Linked DNA regions of Homo sapiens: regions 1, 2, 3, 4, 6 and 7 are each reported to be linked to region 5. Evidence: microRNA targets listed by miRTarBase, many of them from high-throughput screens and not tested one by one. Region 5 holds a microRNA gene; each other region holds the end of a gene's coding sequence.
Evidence for each region. Region 5 holds the annotated microRNA hsa-miR-130b-3p (CAGUGCAAUGAUGAAAGGGCAU, at 827-848, opposite strand). A microRNA usually pairs through its seed, bases 2 to 8, with sites in the 3' UTR of a target mRNA and lowers its output. Matches are read on the target gene's strand: a 7mer-m8 pairs with bases 2 to 8, a 7mer-A1 pairs with bases 2 to 7 and ends in A, and an 8mer does both.

Region 1: the mRNA of NKD2 is a reported target of hsa-miR-130b-3p. The part of its 3' UTR that is shown has no 7-base or 8-base seed match.
Region 2: miRTarBase lists ZNF224 as a target of hsa-miR-130b-3p. Seed matches in the 3' UTR shown: 7mer-m8 at 1,714-1,720.
Region 3: the mRNA of UBE2D3 is a reported target of hsa-miR-130b-3p. Seed matches in the 3' UTR shown: 7mer-m8 at 939-945.
Region 4: the mRNA of BLCAP is a reported target of hsa-miR-130b-3p. Seed matches in the 3' UTR shown: 7mer-m8 at 742-748.
Region 6: the mRNA of GPATCH8 is a reported target of hsa-miR-130b-3p. Seed matches in the 3' UTR shown: 7mer-m8 at 1,087-1,093.
Region 7: the mRNA of SGMS1 is a reported target of hsa-miR-130b-3p. The part of its 3' UTR that is shown has no 7-base or 8-base seed match.

Annotation. Positions count from the first base shown.
Region 1 is chr5:1,038,175-1,041,257 of GRCh38, forward strand. NKD2 (NKD inhibitor of Wnt signaling pathway 2) reads left to right here. Exons shown (of 10, transcript NM_033120.4): 10 at 1-769. The coding sequence ends at 199. Among named protein-coding and RNA genes, the nearest start is that of MIR4635, 23 kb to the right of the region's middle. RefSeq lists an enhancer at 457-1,231.
Region 2 is chr19:44,107,613-44,110,695 of GRCh38, reverse strand. It overlaps ZNF224 (zinc finger protein 224), which reads right to left. Exons shown (of 6, transcript NM_001321645.3): 6 at 870-3,083. The coding sequence ends at 2,412. ZNF225-AS1 (ZNF225 and ZNF224 antisense RNA 1) reads left to right here. Exons shown (of 2, transcript NR_033341.1): 2 at 2,359-3,083. Among named protein-coding and RNA genes, the nearest start is that of ZNF225-AS1, 4.0 kb to the left of the region's middle.
Region 3 is chr4:102,794,843-102,797,938 of GRCh38, forward strand. It overlaps UBE2D3 (ubiquitin conjugating enzyme E2 D3), which reads right to left. Exons shown (of 8, transcript NM_181891.3): 8 at 1-2,618. The coding sequence ends at 2,573. The region is part of intron 4 of LOC102723704 (a long non-coding RNA gene); the gene reads left to right. Among named protein-coding and RNA genes, the nearest start is that of UBE2D3, 31 kb to the right of the region's middle.
Region 4 is chr20:37,516,061-37,519,156 of GRCh38, reverse strand. BLCAP (BLCAP apoptosis inducing factor) reads left to right here. Exons shown (of 2, transcript NM_006698.4): 2 at 1-1,740. The coding sequence ends at 246. Among named protein-coding and RNA genes, the nearest start is that of NNAT, 3.6 kb to the left of the region's middle. RefSeq lists an enhancer at 1-562.
Region 5 is chr22:21,651,106-21,654,201 of GRCh38, reverse strand. It overlaps MIR130B (microRNA 130b), which reads right to left and starts at 898; the gene lies at 817-898. It overlaps MIR301B (microRNA 301b), which reads right to left and starts at 1,221; the gene lies at 1,144-1,221. It also overlaps the pseudogene LOC107985532. RefSeq lists enhancers at 1,508-1,557, 1,094-1,765, 1,766-2,436.
Region 6 is chr17:44,394,853-44,397,852 of GRCh38, reverse strand. GPATCH8 (G-patch domain containing 8) reads left to right here. Exons shown (of 8, transcript NM_001002909.4): 8 at 1-2,572. The coding sequence ends at 285. Among named protein-coding and RNA genes, the nearest start is that of ITGA2B, 6.7 kb to the right of the region's middle. RefSeq lists an enhancer at 1-373.
Region 7 is chr10:50,304,648-50,307,743 of GRCh38, forward strand. It overlaps SGMS1 (sphingomyelin synthase 1), which reads right to left. Exons shown (of 11, transcript NM_147156.4): 11 at 953-2,674. The coding sequence ends at 2,495. Among named protein-coding and RNA genes, the nearest start is that of ASAH2, 55 kb to the left of the region's middle.

The DNA.
Region 1 (3,083 bases), not on the chromosome of region 5:
CCAAAAGGGCAGGGAGGGCCACTCGCCACTCAAGGCCCCACACGCTCAGCCTGCCACAGTGGAGCACGAGGTGGTGCGGGACCTGCCGCCCACGCCAGCAGGAGAGGGCTACGCGGTGCCAGTGATCCAGCGGCACGAGCACCACCACCACCACGAGCACCACCACCACCACCACCACCACCACTTCCACCCGTCCTAGCGCCACTGCCAAGCACACCTCGCTCCCAGCACACCACAGCCCGCGACCTCAGGGCAGGGAGCAGAGCAGCTGCCGGCTGTGTGCCCATGGGGAGCCCAGCCCCCACCCCCCACCTCCGACAGCAAACAGCAACTGACTGCAGGTGCTGGCATGATGGAGGTGGTGCACCTTGGACACGTGGACAAGGCCCAGGCGCCCTCTGCTCTTCTGCCCTCGATGCCACATGGCGGTGAACACATCTGAAGCCACTATGTTTCCTGGCTCTAAGGCTCGTCTGTGTAACCCATAAAACCTGCTTTGATTCCAAAATGAGGCCCTGGAGTGCGCAAGGAGTGCCCGGATGCTTGGGGTGGGTGTTCCTCCCGGGGCTTCAAGGGGTGACTGCTGTAGGCTGTCCCAGTGCGAGGCCGGGAGCGAATGGAAAAGCTGAGGCTTTGCCTGGCTTGTGCATCATGAAGTGAGAGGGGACAGGGCCGGTGGGGGGAAGCAGCTTGTGCTTAGCAGGGAGCATCCGCGGCTCCCCGCAGGAGGCCAAGCAGCAGAAGGCAGCAGTGCTAGAAAGAGAAGTGCCAGAGTAGGGAGTGCAGACCAGTGAGGAGGGGCCACAGGGCACAGGGGGAGCCCACACCAGTGAGGAGGGGCCACAGGGCAGCATGCGGCAGTGGAGGTAGCCCCTGGTCCCGGAGCCACAGCAGCTCAGGTGCATGCAGGACACAGTCAAGGCGGGGAGGGGCAGGGCAACAGATGCTGGGGAGAGGGAGAGGCTCGCGCTGGGTGCGGCTCAGAACACGGGGACTTGCACATTCACGGTCCCAACACTCACGGGGCGACTTCTGTGACATGTCAGCTTTGGAGAAAGGTGTGTCCTGCAAGGGTCAGGAGACGGTTGCAGGCCAGAAGGACGTCCCAGTGACGTTTCGGAGTCTTGCAGCCTGCAGGGGTCCATGTGGTTACCCGGAACAGGAACCGTGGGGGTGCTTTCCGGGACCCAGGGGGCCCGTGCCAATGTTTCTGAGTCTTGGAGCCTGCAGGGGTCCACGTGTTTACCCTGAACAGGAACATGCGGGTGTTTTCCGGAATCTGGCGAGGCCGCGCGGCAGTTTTGCATTTACATTCCTTGTTTTGTTTTTAAGGATAAAGCGGTGCTGGGTGGGGTCTGTGGGAGGGGTTTGAGCCATGGCGGAAGATCCCTGGTGAATGGCTTGGATGTTTGTCGCCTCCGAGTCTCATGCTGAGACGTGATCCGTGGTGCTGGGTGGGGTCTGTGGGAGGGGTTTGAGCCATGGCGGAAGATCCCTGGTGAATGGCTTGGATGTTTGTCGCCTCCGAGTCTCATGCTGAGACGTGATCCGTGGTGCTGGGTGGGGTCTGTGGGAGGGGTTTGAGCCATGGCGGAAGATCCCTGGTGAATGGCTTGGATGTTTGTTGCCTCCAAGTCTCATGCTGAGACGTGATCCGCAGTGCTGGGTGGGGTCTGTGGGAGGGGTTTGAGTCATGAGGACAGATCCCTGGTGAATATGGCTTGGCGCCCTTGCCGTGGTGATGAGTGAGCTCTCATTCGGTGTTTGTGGGAGATCTGGTTCTTTAGAGCAAGGGCCACAACCCCCAGGCTGTGGACTGCTACTGGTTTGTGGCCTGTTAGGAACGGGCCTCACAGCATGGGGTGGGCGGTGGTGAGTGAGCATGAGTGCCTGAGCCCCGCCTCCTGTTAGATCAGAGGCGGGATTAGATCCTGATGGGTGCTCGAACCCTGTTGTGAACTGCGCATACGAGGGATCTAGGTTGTGTGTTCCTTATGAGAATCTAATGCCTGATGATCGGAAGTGGAAGTTTCATTCTGAAACCATCCCCACACCCCGTCCGTGGAAAACTTGTCTTCCACAAAACCAGTCCCTGGTGGCAAAAAGGTTGGGGACTGCTGGTTTAAAGGAACTGGCACCTCCCCCTCTCTCTCTTGCTCTGACCATGTGACATGCCTGCCCCTCCTTTGCCTCCTGTGTTGAGTGGAAGCTTCCTGAGGTCTCCCCAGAAGCTGAGCAGATGCGGGCACCATGCTTGTACAGCCTGCAGAACGGGGAGCCACATAAACCTCTTTTCTTTATAAATACCCCAGTGCCAGGTATTCTTTTATAGCAATGCCAAACAGACTAACACAGGAACCTCCCCCCCGTCAAAAACCCTACAAAAAACACATATGCACAAAAAGTGAGCCAGTGCTGAATGGTCTCGTTCATTAAACACCCACATGTAAAGATCAGTGTGTCTTGTCAGTTACGCTGCAGCAGCTTGGCCTGGGGCCAAGGGCGAATTGTGTGTGTGAAGCTGTTGGGTACCATGTCCAGCAGGCCTGGCACATGGTGGATGGGAAGGGACACAGCACAGGATGGCATCAGGTCCCTCTCTGGCTCCCGGGCCACACCTGTCGGGGGACATGGGTGCCACCAAAAGGAAGGCCGTGCTGTGCTGCAGGCAAGATGGAGGCAGAGGCTCCTCGGAGGACTCCCGGCACACAGCCTGCTCCTGGGGCAGCTCTACCTGCCGTTTGGCCCAGTCTTCCCACCATGCTGGCACCAGAAAGGCTTCACTGCAGGAGACCGGGTGACAAAGGTGACACACAGACAGAGGCCTGGGTCACAGAAACCAAGAGCCTTGTTCTTTCTTGTGTGAGTGTAGACTTTGACTACCAGATGATCTTGTCGCTGGACCAGCCTGTATCTGAATGAGTGGGAGTGACTTGGTGTAAATTAGTGAGTGAATGGGTGAAGGATGAGTGGGTGAATTAGGGAATGAATGAGTGAACGGGTGAATAAATGAATGGAACGGTGACTGAGTGAGTGAATGACAGTGGTGAGTGAGGGCTGAGGGGTAAATGAGTACATGAGTA
Region 2 (3,083 bases), not on the chromosome of region 5:
TTGCAGTGAGCCAAGATTGCACCACTGCACTCTAGCTTGGGCCACAGAGCAAGACTCGTCTCAAAAAACAAAAACAAAAACAAAACAAAACAAAACACCCTAGCAAAATGAAAAGCTTCTTCTCCAGAGGAGAGTAAGTATATGCAGAGGATGGCAGAAATTTGCTTCAAAATACTAAGCATCTGAATTTTGATTCTCCAATTAGGGCCAACCATAGGCTTCAAACATACTATCTGCCACGGACATTTCAAACACTTTTGGACCCCCGGGGTCACAGGGTTTTAGTGGCAGAGAAGCTTACGTGGAAGCTGGGACATATTACACAAACTTCTCTTGTCTGGGACAAGTCAAAGTTTTTGGGTCACTCATAAAAGTCAGAGTAGCACAATCGAAACAATAAGTTGCATCCAATATCAAAAATGGCACACTAAGCATTGTGACATTTTCTTTGCTTGTAGGGGGGTGATAAGCCCTATTTGTTCTATACCTTAGAAAATATATCACTTTAACTTAACACACTTAAGATATTACTATGGTGTATACCTGATGAATTAACATCTGACAATAGTTTGAATATGTATCCCCTCCAAATCTCATGTTGAAGTATGACCTCCAGTGTTGGAGGTCGGGACTATTGGAAGGTGCTTGGTCATGGAAGCAGATCCTTCATAAACATTGGTGTCCCCACCATGGTAATGAATGAGTTCGCACTCTTAATTCACACAAGAGCTGGTTGTTTAAAAGATCGTGGCATAAAAAAATTAAAAATGCATGGAAGTATAAAATGGAAAAATGCCTGCAAACACTCATTGCCAGCAAAGATCAGTAAAAATATTCATTTACACAGTATGTAAACACTCAAAAGAACATAAAACACACAAAGATATTTATTTGATTAGGTTATGAAGGCTAAAAAAAGCCACATTGTTTTTCTCCTTTTGTTATTGTGTCTATGTCATCATCTCATTGAGTTCATATTATTATAGGAATAAATGCAATTCACACAAATTCCTGTTCTTGAACACTTGTTCTTTCCATTTTAAAATGCAGTGACATCATCAATGTGGTCTTCTACTTTTTGGAGTTTTAGTGTCATAGGCATAGTTTCCTATCCTATGGTTTTCATATCAAACAGTTGCACCTTATACATTCTGGCATGTTCTGCTCTCCAAAAGACATATTTTTACTGCCAGCAATAAAGAGGAGGATTTAAATGTTACTCCTGCCCCCAATAATGAATATATTTGATGAAATTACCAAACTCCATTTTCTCTTCCTGTTTCATAGCGTTGGTGGAAGAATATTGGATAAGAAGGTTGACAAAAGCTGTCATTCAAATTTAGAATATTTTATACCAGAGAAGTTAAAAAAAAAAAAGAAATTGTACAGCAATTAAAAGGCAATCATACCAAGGCCTGCATAGAAATCACAAATCATGATCAATCTAGGATTGACTAAGAAAATTTCTGTCAATGTACATCTGGCACTTTAAAAGTGTTACTGTAAATCTTGCCTTAATACTGTTGAAAACACTTAATTGTGAAATATGCAGTGGTCTGTTATTGCAAAATTAACCAAACCTTTTCAGTCTATACTGTGAGAAAAACTACAAAAGATAATTAAATTTATACCGTATACAAGCAATGGACATTTCATAGAGCCACAAATAATACTCTGACTTCAGAGCACAGGATGGGGGGAAGCCAGGAGCCAAGTGCAATAAAATAATGTTCAATGAATATGATAAATCTGATCAAGAAAAAAATTTAAAAGAAAAAATAATAATATGCAAAATATTGCTATGGATTGCAGTACTGAGTTTACTCTGCATTTCAACTCATGTTTCCCAGAATTATTTTTTGCAGGCTTCCCTTTTTGGATACACAAAATTGTATCCAAATCCATACATATGTTTTATCCTTTCATTGATTTAACAAACAAGTACTGAACACATACAAAGTGCTAATCAATGTTAAGGCTGTGACGACTTAGCAGCAAAGACACATGTAGTTTACATTCTAGTGGACATCAATTTGGACATGTCCACCATTAGTCTGGTAAATTCATGAACTCTTACTCTTTCTAAGGCCTGTCTCCTGAATGATAGCTGTAATTATCAAACTTCTGAATGAAGCTTTATTGCACCATTTACAAGGATTCTCCATTATGGTGGTCCTGAGACTACTGGGGCATGCTGAGCTATGGCTGAAGCACTGATGTTATCTTAAACAAATGTTTTCCCTCTTCCAAGAATGGGTGAAATTTATCACCAGCATGGATTCAGAGATAAAATACTCAAAGGGAAGTGCTTACTATGTGCCTCATATTTTAATGTGTCTCTCCTTTGTGAACTTTCAGATGAGACTGCATTCATGAAGACTGAGTGAAGACTTTATTGCACCATCACATCACTAAGGTTTTTCTCCAACATGAACATTCTGATGAAGTCGAAGGCTTGAGGCCTGACTAAAGCACATATCACACTCCCTACACTTCCATGTTTTCTCTCCCATGTGGACCCTCTGATGCATATCAAGATTCAAGCGCCTGTTGTAGCCCTTCCCACAGTCCTCACATTTGTATGGCTTTTCTACACTGTGAACTTTTTCTTGCACTTTAGAGAATGAATTCTGTACAATGTTCTTCCCATGCTGCTCACATTTGAGAGGTGTTTCTCTGCTGTGGCGTCTCTGATGGGTCAGACGAGTTGAGGACCAGCTGAAGCCCTTCCCACACTCATCACATTTGTATGGCTTTTCTCCAGTGTGCACTCTTTGATGAGAATGAAGCTGTGAATTCTGAGTAAATCTTTTCCCACACTCTTCACATTTGAATGGTTTTTCTCCACTGTGCAGTCTCTGATGTTTCAAAAGACACGAGGCCCAGCCAAAACTCTTCCCACATTCCTTACAATTGTATGGTCTCTCTCCTGTGTGGACCTTCTGGTGCATATCAAGATTAAACTTACTATTGTAGCCCTTTCCACACTTCTCACATTTGTATGGCTTTTCTCCAGTGTGAACTCTCTGATGGGAATGAAGATGTGAATTTTGAGTAAATCTCTTCCCACACTCTTCACATTG
Region 3 (3,096 bases), not on the chromosome of region 5:
AATTTACCATTAACAGGCCAACTGGACCCTAATTCGGTTTATGCATTAAAAGATTTAGGAAATACAAAGACATAGTCAAAACTGATTCTAATACTCAGTTGGGTCCTATACATGGCACTAGTAATGTCAAATTACTGGGTGGAGTGGGGCAAAGAGGGCAAATTCTTAGATTCTTTTAAGATTTCATTGTACATATCTCATGTCCAGTGTCCATACATTCAAAAATGTTGGTTTTCCAGGTACTTTACTGTTCTTTTAAACCTGGAGAAGCCTCTATGGCTTATTCCCTTAGAAGCAACAAATGAAATGATGTATAAAGCATCAAGTCAAAGATACAGAGAACTGGACACATCCACTAATTGTTATGACAATCAAAGAAGTCATCTCCGTAAATACCTAAGGGTTGTCTAAGGCTATAAAGGTCAATTTGAAAGCCAGTTAGGGATCCACCGTGTTTCATAAAAGTGTCTTACACTCATGTTTGGCTTTCAAGAAGTGATATGCCTACTAAAGCTGTTATTTTGAGACTATATGCATCTCAGAAGTAATTTTGAAAATAGAGCCAAAGAGCAGTTTTTCTTACCTTGTGGAGCAGAATGTTAACTAATTTCTCATTCATAATTTGAATCCAAAAAAGTTATGCAGTATGACATCTACCCTGAAGGAGCCGTTTTAAGCAAAACACAAAATGAAAAAATTCACTCATTGGAAAAACTGCGTAGCTGGTTTTTTCCCCAATGAAATGATTACAGAATTAACAAAGCCAGAACATCTTCAGAAGGCATGCATTTCACTTCCAGTTTAGAGAAGAACCTTAAGTCAATAAATCATGTCCAAACTACATATTAAAATGTTTATAAAAAGTAAGTTTTAACATTTATTTCTAGCTTTCCACATGTGTGTGCAGACAAGGAATAAGATTGCACGTAAGTGTAAGCAGTGCAAAAATGTGGAAGTGGAGGAGTCACAGATGTGCTAGAACTTTAAGAAATAAAGCAGTGAACAAAATCAAAATAAACAGGAAAAATGTAAAACTATGGGATCAGAATTAGGAAAGGTGAAGAATGGTAATGCCCTTGTTACTACAGAAGTTAAATCAGTGGCACAGATAGCACTTGTCAAACAAAAAACAATCCAATAGCATTGACTTTTATTCATTCATGTTAAGTCACCTGAAATGATATCTGTTGCATTTAAATGCTCATTAATGTAAATGGCTGAACAAATCCATTTCAATGGATACTCAATATCCCACATAGATAAGTCACTTCAACACAGCCTCATGACAACTCCCACACCAAAACAGTACTTTATTTTGCAAATTTTGACCCATTATTACTCCCATGTTGTTTTTTTTCAGCTGTCAAGTGTACAAGGTGAAGAGAAATTTCAGTTAGACAGGGGCTGCACCTGGAAAATAAATTTCTTAAACTCCATAAACACATTTCAAAACTGCTGGGTCCCAAAAGTCCATCTATGAACTCTAGGGCTGCCAGTATCATGTGCAGCACATTAAAGCTACACTATCCAAATAGCTTATTAATTCTGCATAAATCAGGTCAAGCAATGTGTCAACCTGTAACAGACTGTGCACTTTAACTGAACATGGCAAAATATTCACTCTTTCGAACTTTACATCATCATTTGATGTCAAACAATGAAGCAAATCCCAACAGTATATACAAAAAACAGCTTTGCATTTACAAAAGATTGTTTCCCATACTGATTAATCCAGGCAGCTAACTCATTGGTTTATGCAACTTTATTGAAGAAAAATAAATCAATTACTAGCAGAGCTATTAGTTGATCACTCATCCATTGACAACTTGCATCATTTATTCAGTGCTATATTAAACAGTGTATTGGAAGATAGATTAACTAATAGCTCCAAGCCTCCTAACAATTTAAATGAAAATTACAAAATGTTTGAGACCCTATTTTGGAATACAAAGGGTGTTTGACTTCCAATTTCCATTCTCTGTAGAACAAGAACAGGTCATTCCTTTATTGACATGCATAAAATACATCACATTTTCTGTTCTGCTGATGCTATAAATTCAATACCAATTCTCCAGCCACATCAGTTATGAGCATAAAGCATATCATGTAACCTCAAATCTCTAACAGTGGAAGGCTTAAACAAGAATGGATGCTGCTAGAATAATGCTGTATCCTTTGATGTGACAACTGAGCATCCATCTCCCTCCCCCTCAGATGATTTCTTCAGCATGTTAGAGCAGTGAGGAATGGTTTTAGTCTCATAACCAAGTTAGAGTGAAGACATTGGCCACATAATACACATGCTCCATTTTTTTTTTTAAAAATTCTGAGTCTTGGGCAACTGTTCTCTTGTAACTACTTTACAGTTTCTAAAAGCAGTTATTGTCCAAAGCTGGAAGAACTTAAGTCTTCTCAGATGAGCATGTGAATGAATGGAGGGAGGTAAACAAAAAATAAAATTAAAAAAGATGAGGTCTGATAGGGGAGCAGCCGGATAAGAAAATCAAAAAAGGAACAGTAATTTAAAGTTTATTCCAGCTATAATGCAGGTTATTCTGACTTTAAGGTAGCATCACATGGCATACTTCTGAGTCCATTCCCGAGATATTCTGTTGTACCTGTAAATAAAGATGTTATTTTTAAAAGTTAAAATAAAGAATTCCTAATACTTTAAATGGAAGGGAAAGATTTCCATTTTATCATCTCCAGACTCATCATGAAGTCATCTCTAATGACTATGATTAGAATAAAAGCCAACAAGGGAGAAATAGCACTGGTACTCAAAGCAATGTGGGAAATGAGAGCCTGATGCTCTGAAAGTAGTATTTTAAAAACAACTAAGAAAGCAGCACTGAAAATTGGGAGGCTAACAAAAATCAAAAGACCCTTTCTTTCTCTACCACCGAGCTCATGCTCTAATTTTAACGTGAAGAAATTTTTACAGTTCATTATGGACAAATGTTAAAATAGTATACACATTCTATCTATCCACAGAAATTTCCACCAAGGCCAGAACTAGGCTTTTACTAGAACAATTTTATCTGAATCCTAGAGTTTGGGAAATTACTTGGTCCTGGATATTACAAGAAAAAATGG
Region 4 (3,096 bases), not on the chromosome of region 5:
CTGCTGCCCGTCCTCCTCATCCCCAAGCCCCTCAACCCCGCCCTGTGGTTCAGCCACTCCATGTTCATGGGCTTCTACCTGCTCAGCTTCCTCCTGGAACGGAAGCCTTGCACAATTTGTGCCTTGGTTTTCCTGGCAGCCCTGTTCCTTATCTGCTATAGCTGCTGGGGAAACTGTTTCCTGTACCACTGCTCCGATTCCCCGCTTCCAGAATCGGCGCATGATCCCGGCGTTGTGGGCACCTAACGGCCTGCCCTGTTAGCTTTCCAAGGAAGCAGAAGACGGGAGGGGAGGCATTGACATAGGTCATAAAGCATTGGAGTTTCAAATCCCGCAGCCTCGCGGGTGTCACATTCCTGACGGCGCCTTTTTGGCCTGTGATGTTTTATCCTTACAATGTGAATAATGGCACTGACCGGTGCTTTTATTGTAAAGTCCTATAGTCGTGGGTGGTCTTGTGGTTGTGTGTGTTCTGTCCCCATCTAGGTCCTGGCTGGCCGCATGACCACCCCTCTCGCCTCATTACTGTGAGGAGTCTGGGTCCATCCTGGTCAGCTGCCCCAATGTGACCTGGGGCAGATAAAATGCCAGTCTCATTGTCACCTCTGTGACCCCTCCTTGTCAGGGTCTCCTTCCTTCCCAGAATGTTACTGACTCCTCAGTCCCTCTTCTGGTTTCCCTTTATTTCTCTTCTACCCTTTTCCTTTTTTGGGGAGTACCTGTCCAAGACAGGGCTCATTTTTGCACTTATCTCGAATTTGAAGAGATTGCTGACGCCCGAGAGCCTCGCTTTTTCATCCTTCTTTCCTTGTTCAGCAGGCTAGACAGAAACATGTCTTGACTGTTAGTTGTCCACAAATCTTCAGTATTTTCTCCACTTCATTTTTAAGAAAGGAAGCAACAGATAGATGTTGCTCTTTCACCTGGGTGTCTGGGCTCAAGCTTTCCCGCCCAGCCTCACTTCCTTTGCCCTTCCTCCTGCCTTTCTCAACTGTCCCAAGGAGGGGGCCTCATTGTGTCTCCCGTGCATGCTCTGCAGCATTGAAGTATGGTGTGTTCACGTAGTTCTAGCAGTCCCCAGCTGAGTGAGTGGGAGAGTACCTGTGTGTTTCGTAACGGCCTTGATCCCCTTGATAGATGTTTGGATATTTTTTGGTGTGCCCTGTGTGTGTGTGTGTACAAATACATGTGTATATTCCTTTTAAAGAAGCTTTATCGAACGTGGTCTGATTTTGAGGTTTAGCAATAGCTAGCTATATATGGTAGGTGCCGCTACAGTTTTTATTTAGCATGGGGATTGCAGAGTGACCAGCACACTGGACTCCGAGGTGGTTCAGACAAGACAGAGGGGAGCAGTGGCCATCATCCTCCCGCCAGGAGCTTCTTCGTTCCTGCGCATATAGACTGTACATTATGAAGAATACCCAGGAAGACTTTGTGACTGTCACTTGCTGCTTTTTCTGCGCTTCAGTAACAAGTGTTGGCAAACGAGACTTTCTCCTGGCCCCTGCCTGCTGGAGATCAGCATGCCTGTCCTTTCAGTCTGATCCATCCATCTCTCTCTTGCCTGAGGGGAAAGAGAGATGGGCCAGGCAGAGAACAGAACTGGAGGCAGTCCATCTAGGGAATGGGACTGTGAGGCCATACTTGTGAAACGTCTGGACTGCTATTCTAGAGCTTTTATTTGGTGTGTTCGTTGCACAGCTGTTTGAAATGTTTAATAAAGCTTTATAAACTTTACTTTGTGGTTTTATGTGGCTGCAGTCCATTTGGGTCGTGGTGTTGGATTTCGGAGTTGGTGGGGGGCAGGGGGAAGCATGGAGGGGCTGAGTCTTTGGCGCCAGAGTACCTTAGCCTGAAAATTTGATCTGCTTTCTGGAGAGCAGATGGTGGGGATGGGGGAGGGGGAGCAGGGGGCAGGACAGGCGGTGAACAGGAGGGAGTCTGAAAGTTTTCAGAGATGAGACATTTGCGTTTCTCAGCTCCCATGGCTTCTTGCCTGAAATTGTTTCCCTCCATAGGAGATTTGAGTAACCGATCCCTTGACAAACAACTTAAGACAGCTGGAGCTCTAATCATCAAGGATTTTTATGGTGCTGCTTTTGAAGTAAAAATAGTGAAACCCCTTATGGCATTTCAAGTGGAAAAATAAATAAGACTGGCTGTCCAACCAGCCGGATGTAAGGTGATGGCTGGAAGTGCCGAGAGTGGTGTGGTTCCATGTTGTAGGTATGCACGTGCTCCCATGGCCATGACCTTTGAGACAGTGTAGGCTAGTTTGTCAGGTCCTGTGCTGAGTATTCACCTCTGAATCTCCTTCTTCTAGAAAGCATGGTAGGAATACTGCCTGTCCAAGGCACAGGGCTGTCGTGAGGTTTTATTGAGTCACAGTCGTGAAGGGCTTTGGTAATTTCATAGAAGATCACCTGTTCTACCTAGGCTTTAAATTTGTTGCTATAAAATTGAGTATGGTTTTCTCCTGTTCACTTAAGTCTCCCCATTGTCACTTTATTCCTTTTTTCATTCAAAACTTGCCAAAGATTTGTCTATTTTAGAGGTATTTTCAAAGAACCAAACTTTTATCGATCATATCTGCTGGGTAATTTTCTTACCTGATTCTTTTATGCTTTTATCTCTGAATTCTTCTTTTCTGTGTTTCTGGATAGATTTCGTGGTTCTGCAAAGTCTTGACAAGCTGAGGAGTCATACCTGGAAAGGATGGTTTGTTCAACAAACATTGAGACCCTGTACTAGGCTTGCTGGGGATTTCAGGGGCAAGACTCAGACCTGACTCTTCAGGAGCTCATGATTGTAGCCTAGTGGGAAGACTTAACAAAATAGACAATTGCAAATTCCAAAAACAAAACAAACAAAAAAAAGGCTTTTGTGTCCCTACTCTCCTGTGGCGACACCTGGATGATAAATGAAGCCAAGATTATTGCTTATTTTGCTCTCCCTCGGAAAGCAGCTTTCTGTTTTAGGTCAAGCCCGCTTAAGAGTCACAAACAGGCCTCCCTCTGAAAGATTTGTGGCCCTTTCCAGCAGGGAGCCTGCAGCCCACCCCTTCCCAAAGTGACTGCCAAATCAGCATTCTGT
Region 5 (3,096 bases):
AGATTTGAATGACTGTGACTGGGCACGTAGAAACCTTTTGCACCGTGTCAGGTCTTGATGGTAGAGGTGGTCATCCAAGCATGCCTGGGGTCAGGCTCCTTGGAAGTTCAGCTCCAACCCTGTATTCCAGCTGGGACGGTTGGAATGTTAGACACCTCAGTCCCTCCTGCAGGTTCAGGGCACACCTCTCTGTAAGAGAACAAACTGGCATGGTTGGTAGACATCATTTGCAGGCTTTGTATCCCAAGTCCACCCATCCATCTCACATAGTACCACTCCAGCTGAGTCCACTCAACTGATCAGTCAACTGGTCAGTCCATAGTACCACTCCAGCTGACGTCCTGGGGTGAAGGCTGCCTCCTGAAAGGCCTGCCTTACCCCCTTACCCAACTGCCACCCAGAAGAACATTCTCTCCAGAGCCTGGCCCTGTTCAAGCTTCCAGCAAGGACTGGGCCCAAGCCAGGCCTAGAATGATCTTCCATGCAAAAGACTGGGCGTGTATTTCCCCTAAGACCCTGACCAGGCCTGGAGTTCCAGTCTTACCCCAGGGACCCAATGTGGAAAGACCTTCAAACAAGAGCTTTTCAGAAGCTGGGGAGGTCTGCTCCTGCACCTGTCCAGCCATGACAGGATGGAGAGTTTAGGGATGATTCTCCAGCTCTGCACCCACCTGATCCTCTGATGGAGGGTCCAGTCCAGCTTCACATCTGTGCCTAATCAGTGGAAACACTTACCCTCTGGGCACCTCAACCTTCTCAACTGGAAAGTGGAGTGAGGCAGCAAGCTCCCTTTCCCCCTCCCAGGGTAGCAGGCTGGACCTGACCGATGCCCTTTCATCATTGCACTGCTTCCCAGCGGCCTATAGTAGTGCAACAGGGAAAGAGTGTCGGGCAGGCCTGCCAGTGCCTCCCCCAGGGTGGTCTGCAGGGATCTGAGACCTGGAATGCAGGCTGGCTGGGGCGGGGCCTCTGCCCGGGGGGAAAGGGTGCCCTCTGACCCCAGAGGCCCAGGCCTGTCTAGAATCTCAAGTTTCCATGGAGAAGGGAGCGAATTGGGTAGGGGGGAGGGGAGGGCCTGCAAGCCCAAGGGGCCCTGCCTGGGGAGTGGGAGGTGAGGGTTATAGGGAGGGAGATCCCCAAGGCTGGTCCCAGATGCTTTGACAATATCATTGCACTGCTTCTCAGAGCACAGTAGTGCAACCTCGTCAGAGCACCTGCGGCCAGCAGGGGGGACCCCACCACCCCCAATACACGCAGGGCGGGAAGCTCAACCATGGATGGGTGGGTGGGGCAGAGCCCCCGTCCAGTCCATCCGGGCAGGGAAGGAGACCGCAGCGGGGTGCGTCCCTGGGGTCTTCAGAACCCAGGACACCCAGGCCTTTCCCAGAACGCTCCGGATTGAGGTGGAGGAGAAACCCCAGACTAGGGGGTTGTTCCAATCCCGGAGCAGGAGCTGACGGGCCACGCAGGGGAGGGGGCGCACACACAAAGACGAACCCGCACTCAGCCGCAGTCCAAAGCCGGCTAGCGCCCGGAGCGGGGTGGGTACAGCCCGACGACCCTGCGCCCTGACTCGGCCCGCGGCTCCAGGAGAAAAAGGGCGGCCCCACCCCGGGACGACGCGCCCCTTCTAGCTGACGACTCCATCCCTGGCCCCTTGCCCTGCACTAGATACACTCTGGATTCTTTTCTAACATATTCTTCTGCCTGGAGGCCCAGAGTGGAGCAGAGGATGGGGGCTCCCCGCCCTTCTAGAGTTCCCTGCTCCAAAGAGGGCCCCCGGGATCCCGGCCGCGCCCCTCCGCCTGACCCGCCGAGTAGGGCCGCCCAGCCCAGCCCAGGATCCCCTCCTCAGACACAGCTGACTCACGCAGACATCCCTTCCGCCCAGGGCCCGGTCAGGACGCGGAGGGTTAGACGGAAGAGGATCCCGGCCATCGTCTGCCCCCGGGTCCCCGTCCAGACGACCCTGCACCTCGTGGCGGCCCCTCGCCTGCCGGCTCCATCTTTAACCCGCTGACAGTCGGAGGGGCCGGGCCCCCGACTCCTTAGCATAGCGCTGCGCTCATTGGCCGGCGCTGGCGCGGGGATTCGCCTCCTGCATGCCTGTTGGCTGAGACGGGAGAGATTTCAAAATAGCCTCCGGGTTCCGATTGGCCCGGCGCCGGCCGAGTCTCGGGCTCCGTGGTTTTAACAATGAGTTCTACAAACACTTTTTCCCCATTCATAACTTATCAAAAGGAACTTTGCCCGCCTTTTCTCAGCTCCAATCTCTGCGAGTTTTCTAGCGACACCGACAAGAGCGCTTGGAAGCCCGGTGAGGGGCGCCAGGCGCGAGCCCACAGTGGGGGAGGCCGAGACCCTGTGGAAATTCCCGAACCCCCGCCAAGCCTGCTGTGAACGCGGCCGCGGGCTGCTTTGTTATGCATGCTGAGGTTGCTCTCTGCGCCTCCTGGATGGGATATTTGGACGTGGTGGGCTTACAAACTGGGGTAGCCCCCCTCCCAACTCAACCACCCCGGATCGCCCGGCAGGACGCGAGTGAGGCTTTCCTGAAAACCCCCGGGTATGGCTGGGCTATGGAGACCGGGTCCTGGGCCCCGTGGTCTTTTGGATCTGTGGGAGATATGGGGAACGGAAGTGTAAGCTTTGGTTTCTTCGTGATTGTGATCCACTTTGCGGAGAAGCATTCATTAAGCGCCTACCCTTCGCTGATGACTAGGAAGTATATTGATCACCGGGCTGTTGAACGGCTCCTAGAGGGAAGGGAGGAGCTGTGCTTAGACAACTGTGCCCCTGCAACCCCTCCTGCTTTATTATCGGTCCAATGGCTGAGAGCAAATGTTTTTGAGGCAGGCAGAGGTGGTTTTGAATCTTTATGAACCCCTGTTGCCTTCTTGCAAAATTGAGATGGCAATCAAACCTGCCCCATAGGGCTGGCTGTTGCCAGCAGCAAATGAGATGCTGTGTAAATTGTTGGCCCAGCACCTGGCATTTAGTAAGTGTTCACTGAAAGTGAGTTCTGCTGCCACTACAGTTTTTATTTTTGGCCTTGTCCTGCATTCTGCCTGGAACAATCTTATCTGCTCCCACAGC
Region 6 (3,000 bases), not on the chromosome of region 5:
CCCCAGCCCCATCTGACCCCCATTTCTTTGTCCCACCTCACTCACTCAATCATCCCTGGCCACCCTGCCACCTTTCTCGCTAGCCATCCCATCCACATCATTCCCGCCTCAGCCATCCATCCTGGGCCCTTCACCTTTCACCCTGTCCCACATGCTGCCCTCTACCCCACCCTACTTGCTCCACGGCCTGCTGCAGCAGCTGCCACTGCACTTCACCTTCACCCACTACTTCACCCCATCTTCTCAGGTCAGGACCTGCAACATCCCCCCAGCCATGGCACGTGAGTTGGGGGATGGGATCCTAGGTAGGGCCAGGGGAGGAGACCCATAAATGTTCCCTTGGGGGTGTTGAGCCATTAATACCAGCAAGTAGAAGCTGGGATGGGCAGTGTCTGACAGCCAAAGAATTGAGTTTTGGCTTGCAGGGGTGGGTTTAGATTTGAAGTTTGCTTTCAGTTTACTATCAGGGATTTCTTTTTCCTGTCCTCCTCTCAATTTGTCCCTCCCTCTTCTGTGTTTCTAAGCTAGGGAACACCAGTAAGTGCTACCCACCCCTCTGCAGCAACATCTCCAAACTGTCAAGTTTAGATAATCCCCTCCTCCCTCTGCTTTTTTCCTCTGCTCTTCCCTTCTGTAAATTTTAAAACATTTTCCTCCCCTCTGGCCAGTGGGTTGTCACCAGAGCACTTGCTGTGGGCCCATCTGGTCTTGCCTTCTCAGCGCCACAGGGAAGGCCAAGCTGTTCTAGTGGTGGAAGTGCCACCATTTTGGGGTAGTATCTTTGACCATCTTTGGTGACGTTACGTTATCCCAGGTGAGGTGGAAAGCGTCTCACCTGGAACCTGATATAACTCAGGCTGCAATTCCATCCAGTTCCCACATCAACGGAGCCACACATTTGGCACTGTTATCTTGGTATCCCTCATCCCAGAAGAGGCATCTCCATATCCCAGAAAAGAAGATCCTATCATGAATAAAAGCTGTATGGCCCAGAGAGGAGCTCATGTGTCTAAAGTGAAGGGTATATTTTCTTCTGTTGTGTTGATGTTTCCTTCTTAATTTATAGGATTTTTTTAATGTAAAAAATTGCACTGAACTCTATAAACGTAAATGCTGCTTTTTGTAGCTCATATAAAAAAGGTTCCATATTTGTAGTATACTGCAATAATATTTTTTACATCCAGCTCTTTAAGTGATCCTCGTTCTGGTGGCTTTGTGTAAATATGTTTGCCCTAGTTGAATTAAGAAACTCTAAAGGTTATAAAATGAAAACAAAAAATAAAATATTTGTTTTCTGCTAGATGCAAAACTGACTAAGCATGTATATTTTACCAAACTTATGTATTTTTTGAAGTTATGAACTATAAAATGTTAAAACATTTTTTGCTGGGACAAAATGTTAAGTAATTTGCAGTATGTAGTGCCCCCAGTATTGGGATTTTTGAGCTAATGGGCAGCAGTCAGCTGGGGGCTTCTGAGGGATGCTCATCTTTAACAGTCTCCCTCATGTACTTTTGCTGTTTTACACAGAGAAACAGGTAGACCCCACAGAGGAGAAGGAGGGGATTCAACAGCTTTATTGTCTGGAAGCAGTGAGATTTGGTGATTGTCTGGGGGGATTCCTGGGTTTCCCTGGGTACCTTGTTCCAGGCAGTCAGTCCATTTGCCTTCCTAGTACTTAGCCCCCTCTGACAATTTTTTTTTTAATGTGCCTTTTGGGTTGGTAGAAACGGAAGTAGAAGTAGGCTGGAGGATGAGTTGGGACAGTCTTCCTTTTGTTGGGAGGTGAGCACATTTACAGATATTTTGCTTCATAGTTTCCATGCCCTCTGCCCAGCTCAGTTTAGACAGTAAACGTTCCTTGTTTCTTTTCTCCCATGACACTGACAAGAGGAATTACCACCTCAGCCTCTTTTGCCCCTCTTCTTGCCTTTCACCCAGGCTCTCAGCCCTAATTAACACACTGACCCAAAGGTGCTTGTGTTGCAGGTCCCATCTCCTTTGATGAGGTTAACAATTCCCACTTTGGCATTTTCCTAACTATTCGTGTGGCTAGAATTGGTTGGTTGGTCACTTGACAAGAAAAACCATACTTACCTGGGCCAAGGCTCTGTTCCTGCCTTCGCAAATTCTCAAAAGAGTAAAGTTTATGAAAAGAAAGTGGCAGGCAAACACAACTCTTGACTGCCCTCCCACCCTCCTACCTGTTCAGTACTCATCTGATTCAGAAGCATCACTTCTTGGATAACTAGCACTGGAAAAATGAAATCATCTGTGTAAGTGAAGGGACTCATTTTTCTTTGCTTTCAGCCCATGTAAATAAATAATACAGTATTAACATTTTCGTGCTGCTTCCCATTAGCTTGTAGATTGAGCCATACTCTGGCTGCCTCTTTGCCTTCCTAGGGGCATTTTCTTTAACTTCCAGAATAGTGATTTTAAAAGTAAAAATAAAAATAAACCTTACTTACAAGCATAACAGATTGTATTTAACTTTATCACATATGATAGAGATATATATGCTGTAAAATGAGGGAAAGGAACTTTCTAATAAACCAATGATTTGTGGAAACTTAGCAGAGTCTGTCGTAATTGTTGCCCCATCCACTCAAAGTTAGGTAGGGTTGGAGGTGTGGGTTATAAATAACATCTTGTTTGACATGACCAAGGAATAGATTCCTGTGAACCAGTTAGAGATGTTTGCAGTTGTGCTTCTGAAAGCTCAGGCTACGCAAAGAGAGAGGAAAGATGATGGTGTGGGAGGTGGTAATAGTAGTTAATTTCTCTCAGTTGTAGGTAGATGTATTGGGATGTACACCTCCTTTCCACTTCCTCTTTCCCACAAGAGGAAAGATTTCCTTCCATTTTAGATATATAATCTGTGTGTAGTAGAATATATGGTGTATATATAGGTGCTTACTAAATGGGTGTGGAATTTCTGGCTTTGAATTTTAGGATTTTGGACTACTTTAAGGGCACTGAGATGACAAGAATCATCTG
Region 7 (3,096 bases), not on the chromosome of region 5:
GGCTATAACAGTTAAATAAAGACCTATCCAAGGGTTTGGCTCTATTTGCCTAAAGAGGCCACCACATTTCCCCTGTCTGATACACAAGTTTAAAGCCCCACACAGGAAAAGTTTTACTGGTTCTAATTTCCTTTTTTTTTTTTTTCGGAGATAGAGTTTCACTCTTTTGCTGGGGCTGGAGTGCAGTGGCACGGTCATGGCTCACTGCAGCCTCTGTCTCCCGGCCTCAAGCGCTCCTCCCACCTGTCTCCTGAGAGGCTGGGACCACAGGCATGTATCACCGTGCCAGGTTAATTTTTGTATTTTTTGTAGAAACTGGGTTTCATATTGATCAGGCTGGTCTTAATCTCCTGGGTTCAAGTGATCAGCCCACCTCGGCTTCCCAAAGTGCCGGAATTACAGGCGTGAGCCACCACACCTGGCCTCTGGTTTTACATTTCTAGCCTCCTTAACACATCCTTTATCAAAGACACATCTCCACTGTTGACATTTTCCTTTAGTCACCACATCAGAAATAATAATAACCTTTTATTCTTTTTAAATAGTTATTTTCCATTACCACTGGTTTATCATAGTACTATTACTCTATTTCTCACTTTGGATTTACTTTTCCTTTCCATCTACACTGGAGAAGCTATATTACTGCCAGATATAGGAAAAAAAACAATTTGGTTGAGAATTAGAGAATTCAAAATGTTAGTAAACATTGTTCTAAAGTTTGAATTTAACTTACATGTGACTCTTTTTATATATTAAAAAACTCTCTAGAATTTACTAAAGATTAGAATATATTTTAAGGAATCCCAAGGAAAAAAATCCAGATAATTATTAAAAGTCCCATGTCAAGCAGAAACACTCCATGAAGAAATTCTGAAACTGATTTTCTATCTTGCTTTAATGGCTCCATTTATGACTTCTGTGAAGAATGTGAACACAGTAGAAATAACAGCCATTTATTTTAAGTATCAGTTTTTATTAAAAAGTGCATTTTGATTAATTTATGATCTAGGTAAGCTGTAAGATACCAGTATACTCTCTGGAATAATAACTTTACAAAGATTTAAAACAAACAAAATTTTAAAAGCCTTTTTATTTCCTTCACCATTATTGTTTTACAATACAAATATCACCTTGTGAATACACAAAAAAATCCTACGGAAGATAATTCTGCTGCACGTAAAATACAGAATGGATATATATACTTCTTCATTCTTAAAAAACTATTTTGTTCTCCACATTGGCAAGTATAGAATAGAATACTTCCCCAAACATATGTATGTTAGGAGTAAAACTTAGAGTTACATGCAGTTTCTGCACAAATATCTTTTAAAGAAATAGATCTCTTTTTTGTTGTTCACCAACAAAATTGTCATGAGAGTATGGATAACTAATTCATAGCTTTCAAGTTTTAGGTAAGTGATCATTTTCAAAACTCTCTTTAAGAAAAGATATTCATGGCTGTTTTCATTGAGTAGTTAAAATTGAACTACCAAATCGACGATAAAATAATTTAAGTGGTACATGTCATTGCTACCTGATCACAATATGTGAACAGGCTCTGACTCTAATTAACAACCTCATTATTTAAGTCATTGCAATTTTAAAACCATAAGCAGTCTTCTGATTCAATTTAGCTATAAATGCAAAATTTAGTAGTGTATACATATATTTATATTTTCAAGGAATACTTTATTTTAAATAAAAACATTTAAGATTGCCTACTGACCATACAATCAAGACAAGAAAGGCACTAGAAACATAGACAAATTTCTCTCCCAAGATGCATTTTTAAATTTTAACTCTCTTCTCTCTGACATGTTAAAAATCTTTAAATTTGGTGTTCATAACATCATTTTGAAAAATAAAGTTAGGAAATACTTAGAAAATCACTTTATAACAGAATCTTTTTTTTTGCACTTTTTGAAACACTGCCTTTGCTGATTTTACAAAACCCAAAGTTACCAAACCTTTCTGTGTCTATCATTTTTATTTGAATATCGGTGCAACAGGTAGAAAGATTTCAGAATCAAACCCCATTCAGGTACTTAGAAACCTTCATAGAGACATTTGCTAGAAAATGGCTTACAGCCCAATCTTTGGGGCAAGAGATATGAAAAGTATGTTTTCCCAAGAAAATAATACGCTTTATTTCCAGATGTGACTGGAAAGACCAGAACTTATGATATAAAAGCTTACATTTATGCTGCTGCATCATATACAAAGGAACATGGTGGTTGCGGGTTATGTAAATCCCAAACTTATGAACAGGAAATGTGTACAGTGCATGATAGGTTAAATTTTTCTTTATTGTTGTCCAACGCAGGTCCTTTGGAGAGAAAAAAAGATCACAGTGCTGACCAGGTAACTCAATAGGTTAAGTCAAGGTAACCATTGAAAGATAATAGGATTAGGGAGGTGTTTATTTTATGGCATCTTCTCTCATGGAGTTCTTAGCACTTCGGACAATTTGTCTTTTCCCCACTTTGTACAGCTGTTATGTGTCATTCACCAGCCGGCTGTATTTAACTTGCCTACTGAGGTGGACTACTGGCCAGGGGAAAGGCCAATGGTAAGATCGAGGTACAATTCCTTGGACATTCTTTTCAAAGTACTGAAATGGCCTGTACCACCACACCCTGGCCAGGAGGTTCATCTGGGAAGCTTCCTTTAGCACCTAGGATAACAAAGAAACATAAACACATTTCTTACAATCTTTCACTTTAAGTTCAAATACTTGCCACGCTAAAATTCCCAAAGGACTCCATACCTGCCCTGCGTGTCCACCCACATATCCCAGCTTCTCTCTCTCATCACCATTCTACACTCCACATTCATCTACAAACTGAGCCACATCCCAGTAGAAAAACAACGCCAATTCTGGGAGGGCAAGGAGAACTTATGGCTCACTCATCTCTTGCTTATAAATAAACACCTCAGTTAGCTTTTTAGGTATTCCTCTTCTATGCTAAAAATGTTAACACTTAATTAAATGTTAAATATTAAGCTTGTGATGTGCCCCGGGTAGGGAGAAGAGGATAGGAAAGCAAATCAAGCAAGGAGGGACACAAGCTTAGAAAATATTTTTCATTTTTCAAG